Linked DNA regions of Homo sapiens. The protein of the gene in region 1 interacts with the protein of each later gene in a pairwise test. Each region holds a gene or a part of one and is shown on either strand. Other genes may lie near its edges. The genes, in order: KIR3DL3 and TNMD.

What was found.
Region 2: the proteins of KIR3DL3 (region 1) and TNMD interact in a two-hybrid assay, tested with the Homo sapiens proteins (one large-scale study listed by BioGRID).

Annotation. Positions count from the first base shown.
Region 1 is NC_000019.10:54,730,891-54,734,720, forward strand, and holds part of KIR3DL3 (killer cell immunoglobulin-like receptor 3DL3 precursor), read left to right. Parts: intron 1-3,830.
Region 2 is NC_000023.11:100,597,498-100,600,552, forward strand, and holds the end of TNMD (tenomodulin), read left to right. Parts: intron 1-6; coding exon 7-160; intron 161-1,518; coding exon 1,519-1,685; intron 1,686-2,010; coding exon 2,011-2,220; 3' UTR 2,221-2,388; downstream 2,389-3,055. UniProt on the Homo sapiens protein: May be an angiogenesis inhibitor.

The DNA.
Region 1 (3,830 bases):
TGGGAGTGCAGATGTCACTTCGATACGCTGATGTCCTTTCCTTTGGGTTTACACCCAGTCATGGAATTGCTAGATCCTCTGGAAGTGTCTTTTTACATTTTGTTTTATGGTTTTTGTTTTTGTTTTTGTTTTTTTTAGACTGTTTCACTCTTGTTGCCCAGGCTGGAGTGCAGTGGCGCCATCTGGGCTCACTGCAACCTCCACCTCCAGGATTCAAGAGATTCCCCAGCCTCAGCCTCCCAAGTAGCTGGGTTACTGGCTCCCACCACCACACTCGGCTAATTTTTATATTTTTAGTAGAGACAGAGTTTCGCTATATTGGCCAGGCTGCTCTTCAACTCCTGACCTCAAGTGACCTACCCACCTCGGCCTCCCAATGTGCTGGGATTACAGGCATGAACCACTGTGCCCGACCTCATTTTATTTTTTGAGGAACTTCCATACTCTTCTCCTCTGTAATGGCTGTACTAATTTACATTCGTATCAGCAGTGTACCAGATGCAACCCTGGTTGACTCAGCAGAGCAAGAGACGTGCAGTAAGAGAGAATTTAGCTTATTTATGCACACGACACTTCCACTCACTCACTCGTTCAGCCAATGCCCCATGCTCAGGCTGTGCAGTGTGGAATCTTTTCCTATTGTTGCCATAACAAATTTCCACAAGCTTCGTGGATGAAAACATGTTTTTCTTAATTATCTCACAGTGCTGTAACTCAGAAGTATGAACTGCATTTCACTGGGCTGATATCAAAGGGACAGTAAGGCTGGATTTCTTTTTAAGGTTCCAAGCAAGAATCTGCTCCTTAACGTTTCCCAGCTCCTAGAGGCTCCCACGTTCCTGGGCCCCTGGTCCCCTTCCTCCTTCCTCCTTCCTCAAAGCCCACAAAGGCTGGTCACGTCTCACATGGCATCATTCAGACTCTTCTTCTTTACCCACACCTTTTTCTCTGAATCCTGCTCTGCCTTCTTCCTCATCTTTTAAGGACTTTGGGATTCTATTGGGGTCACCAAGATAATCCATCTCAATCTCCCTAAAATCATCCAGCGTACCCTCTTTTTAAGTTCAGCTGATTAGCAACCGTAATGCCATCTGCAATCTTCATTCCTCCTTTCCTGTAAAATAACATATTCACAAGCTATGGAGGCTAAGACAGGGACATTTTGGGGGTGGGGCAGCATTCTCCTGCCTTCCACAAATGGTAAACAGGATGCATTTGGCCTCTGCTCTTGGGACGCTGATATTGCAGATGGGTAAATGCGAGGGCAGAGAATGAATGCACAAGGGTACCAATAAATGAATGATCCATTGGGAAGCATCTGTGCACCAAATCTGGGGTTTTTTGTGTGTGTGTGTGTTTTTTGTTTTCTTTTTTTTTTTGAGTAGAGTCTCTCTCTGTTCCACAGGCTGGAGTGCAGTAGCACAATCTCAGCTCATTGCAACCTCTGCCTCCTGGGTTCATGCAATTCTCCTGCCTCAGCCTACCGAGTAGCTGGGATTACAGCTGTGCGCCACCACACTCGGCTAATTTTTTTGGTATATTTTTTTAGTAGAAATGAGGTTTCACCATGTTGTGCAGGCTGTCTCAAACTCCCAATCTCAAGTGATCCCACCGCCTTAGCGTCCCTAAGTGCAAAGATTACAGGCGAGAGCTACTGCGCCCAGCCAGGATTTAAAATAAGTAATAGATAATGCTGAGTATATAATTTCAGGTGACAGAGAAGGTCTCACTGATCAGATAATATTTGTGACCTTAATGGAAAAAATGGATTCAACCCTTGGAAGATTGGCGGAAGGATTTTCCACACTGAGCTCTCAGCCGTGAAGGCACAAAGGTGGAAACATTCTTAGTTCAAGGAAGAGGCTCTGCCTCAAATGCTGGGAATGAGATGGGGAGAATGACAAGACAACTGTAGAGAGATGGAGAGCACACTGGGTACACAGGAAACTAAGGAGGAACAAGGAGCATGTTTTTGATACTCACAGCCCTTGGATTCAACTCAGAGCTAACTAGGAATCCCTACCTGATTAACAGTGACCGACATGAAAATAAGGGAGGCCCAGGTGCGTAACTGGAATCTAGGAGACCGTGGAAAAGGCAATTCCCGCCCCACTGGTGAAACGTAGGGTTGATTTACACACTAAATGAATGAAAGATGGATATAAGCTATGCTTGTGAGGTAGAATCATTTGCAGGGAGGGCTTGCTGGGTTTGATTTTTCCTAGTAGTTTAATCCTTGTTTCATTAATTTCTTTCTGAGATGTGTTTTTTTTCTACATCTAAATCAATACCTGGCAGAGGAGCGATAGACACATGAGGGGTGGTGCAAATGAAGGGACCTAGTATAATATAATATACAAGACTGTGGATGGGGGCTCACACCTGTAACCCAACACTTTGGGAGGCCAAGGCGGGTAGATCACTTAAGGGTAGGAGTTTGAGACCAGCCTGGCCAACATGGTGAAACCCCGTCTGTACTAAAAATACAAAAATTAGCCTGGTGCATTGGCACCTGCCTGTAATCCCAGCGACTGGGGAGGCTGAAGCAGAAGAATGGCTTCAACCCTGGAGGCAGAGGTTGAACTGAGATCGCATCACTGCACTCCAGCCTGACACAGGGGGACTCTGTCTCAAAAAATAAAAATAAAACATACATAATTATGACACACAGAAATTACAAAGGCAACTGGATACCAACCATCATTTTTCTATTTCTCTGTGTTTAATTCTTTGACCCTTTATCTTATCCATTAAACAATCAGGTTAAACCTCTTCCTTATTTGGCTTTCTGTGAGCTTGGGATCATATGGAAAATGTGAAAGCCTCCTGAACCCACCAGCACAGGTCCTGGAATAGAGAACGTGCTCTGTTCATGGCATAAAACTTGCCCCTTCACCCAAATCCCCCAATTCATCTCTACTTCCAATCACCTATGGAGATACAGATAGATCATGGGGAGGTAAACACTAATACTCTTTGGAGTGAGCTCAGATCTTGGACTCAGAGACCAGTGCCAGCACTAGCCCCTGGTCACATTTCGTACTAACTCACAGAAGGACAGGCTGTATTGAAACAATAAACGACGGAGAGGGCGGTCCTTCCCCGTGCTTCTCGGGTGGAATAGCAGCCTAATATATGTCTCAGCAGATCACAAAAAGTAGCATGTTGTTCCTGGGCTACATCATTATTTCATGGCTGTTTGATTTAAGTCAGTTCTACTTCACTTTTTTTATCTTGATTTCATTTTTTCTTTCTTTTCTTGGAGAATGTAATTTTTTTGAGTCAAGAGGGTTGTGGTGGTAGAAACTGTAAAGCACATTCGCTGTGTATCAATCCCAATCCAGTCTTCCCAGAGAAGATTCTAAACACCTCCTGGAATGCACCTGGGCCTATACCAATTCCTATCACTCACCGTCACTCCAGGGAGACAGAACACACAGAGAACACATTACACAGGCAGGTTCATTACTAACAGATAAGCAGCGAGTGACAACAGAAACCTACATTTCAATGTGAGCCAGTCCCTCAAGGCTCAGAAAAGCTGCTCGAGACATGTGGAGTCACCCCATATGCAGTGTATCTGGGGGAAATCAAAAAGCAGCCCAGCCTGGGTTTTGTACCCTGGAGCCACAGGAAGCACTCAGCTAAAGCACTGCATGACGTCCTCCTCCAGGAAGAACAGGAAGACAGCCCAGGCTGTTCTGGGATGTTCCTCCTGATCTCAGGACGTTGCTGTCTTAGTCCATTTTTGTTGCTCTAAAGGAACACTTGAGCCTGGGTAACTTCTAAAGACAAGAAATGTGTTTGCCTCACAGTTCTGCAGGCTGTAC
Region 2 (3,055 bases), on another chromosome or scaffold:
TTTCAGAATGAAGAAATTACCACAACTTTCTTTGAACAGTCAGTGATTTGGGTCCCAGCAGAAAAGCCTATTGAAAACCGAGATTTTCTTAAAAATTCCAAAATTCTGGAGATTTGTGATAACGTGACCATGTATTGGATCAATCCCACTCTAATATCAGGTATGACATTCTTATCCTCATCCTCCTCCTATTTTCTAAGACAGTAACAGGTTAATGTTCCCAGCATTTAGAGGCTACATTTCTAGGAAAACAAATGATCGGTTTATATCTTCTTGGATGAGTCTATATATGCTGACTGCCAGTGAGGAGGGAATTTTTCACAGCCAAGTTATAAATCAGATAAATTAATGTTGACAGGCTTTTAAATATCCCAGCAAAGGTAACACCACCCTAATGTGACTAGTGATAGCAAAAAACTAATCTGTCTCTCTTTGCACATCTATATTCATTGCAGTCGGTATGCCAGACTATTGCTCAAACCACTGTGGGTCCAACCCAAGAATAGAGGAGAGAAGGGCAAAAACAATGCTCTGCTATCAAGAAGGATTCCCTATGTCAAATGGTGGCATTTTCCTTAGAAGATAGGACAATCACTGCAATACAAATTTCTTTGTTGCTGTTTTAGGAATTACTATAAAAATAGTTGAGGGCTTGATGTCCAGAGTAGAAGAGTCCAGCCCTCAACTTCCAGTCAGCCCATAGAGAAGGTAAAGGCCCCTGGATGTCTTAGTCTGTTTAGCTAACATGGAATTTGGCCTCCCTCATTCTGCACAGCATAGATTACTCTATTACCCAAGAGAGGTTATTCTCACCAATGTAAGCATCTGTGGGTACTCTTTAGAGATATTAAAAAGGTGACTAAATGCAGTGTGGTATCCTGGACTGGATGCTGGAACAGAAAAAAACATTAGTAGAAATACTAATGAAATCTGAATAAAGTCTGTAGTTTAGTTAATAACATTGTACCAATTCTAACTTCTGATTTTTGATCATTGTACCATGGTTATGTGAGGTAACATTAGGGGAAACCGGGTGAAGAATATGTGAACTCTGTACTATTTCTGCAACTCTTCCATAAATCTAAGATTATTTCTAAACAGAAAGTTTAAAAAAAATTTAAGACAAGAAACATAAGGGAAGTGGGAGGACAGAGGATGTCAAATCAATTCAGGCAACCAAGAAATATTTATTGAGCATCTACATGGGTAAAATCATCATTGTAGGAGATACAGAAGTCCCTTGTCCTCAGTTTTTAATTTAGTGTGCTATTAAGTCAAAGCAGTAAATGTTTGATGCCAAAGAAGCAAAGAAGTTTGTGTATGTAGAAATGATCAGGCTTGTTTTGGAAACTACTCTAAAATATCAGCTGAAGGAGCTTGGAAAAGTGGTCCATGCCTAAATGATGCCAGTTAGAAGACACAATGAAAATCTCTATCCCCAGCTGCTATTCTCCCAAGCACTTCTTTCAGGAACATTTGCAAAGCAGTTGCATCACAACTTTGCATTTATTATCTTAGTTTCTGAGTTACAAGACTTTGAGGAGGAGGGAGAAGATCTTCACTTTCCTGCCAACGAAAAAAAAGGGATTGAACAAAATGAACAGTGGGTGGTCCCTCAAGTGAAAGTAGAGAAGACCCGTCACGCCAGACAAGCAAGTGAGGAAGAACTTCCAATAAATGACTATGTGAGTTATGTTTATGTAAACTCTTGATAGAGGAGGAAAAAAGAGCCCTCACAAAACTTACTACCCCTCAGATCACAATCATTGGAAGGAGAACGATCATGGCTTTAACAAAAAAAAAAAAATGTTTAAGAAACTTGGAATCTCCAGGAGGCTCATTCAAAATCAATCTCGATCTCTGTAGATATATCTCCATGATCAGGCTAAGGAGCTTAATTTCTCACAAGCCCCCAACTCATACAGTCTTCTAGTTCTCCCCTGCTTGGTGAGAACTCTTGCTAGTGAACCTTCCTCTCCCACCCCCAACACTGGCTTCTTCTTCTTTCAGACTGAAAATGGAATAGAATTTGATCCCATGCTGGATGAGAGAGGTTATTGTTGTATTTACTGCCGTCGAGGCAACCGCTATTGCCGCCGCGTCTGTGAACCTTTACTAGGCTACTACCCATATCCATACTGCTACCAAGGAGGACGAGTCATCTGTCGTGTCATCATGCCTTGTAACTGGTGGGTGGCCCGCATGCTGGGGAGGGTCTAATAGGAGGTTTGAGCTCAAATGCTTAAACTGCTGGCAACATATAATAAATGCATGCTATTCAATGAATTTCTGCCTATGAGGCATCTGGCCCCTGGTAGCCAGCTCTCCAGAATTACTTGTAGGTAATTCCTCTCTTCATGTTCTAATAAACTTCTACATTATCACCAACAGCCTGATTGCTGCTGAACACACTGGGTAAGTGTTTGCTGAGAATATTCACAGCAACTGAAATGGAGCAGACCCGTCAAACATAGATGACTATGCTGAGGCTCAGAAAACAATGCCCCAAAATGAAAGCCTCAGAAGCAAAAGTTTTTCTCTGACCTTCTCCTACCTGCCAGTCTCTCAGTCCCATTCTCCCCCGAGGCTAGCCATAAAAGCTAGAATCCCTCTTCCTCAAGGCGTGTCATATAAATCAAAACCCCTTTTTTCCAAAGCCAGCCTTAAACCTAAAAATATCACTCTGATTTTTCCTCTGCTTTTCTGTGTAAAAGCTGGCCATAAGGAAATTATCTGACCTACCTTGTTTGACTGTAGGTCATAAGACTCCCTTTCCAGAGAGGATCCAACACAACAGGTTTGGAAGTAGAAAAGGGCAAAGCATAATGATACCTAAATATCATATTTTACTCTGCTGTATTAAGACAGTGGAAATAAGGAGCTGATGATAAAATGTCTCCATAACTGATGCATTAAAAACATATCCTTTTGTGCATAGCCCCAGTGTTTAATTATATGAAAGATATATTGTGAACTTCCTTAAGTATCAATTAAGCTGCTGGACAGGCAGTGAGTCATAGCAGGCCAACACTAAAATATTCCAAATGTGCAGACT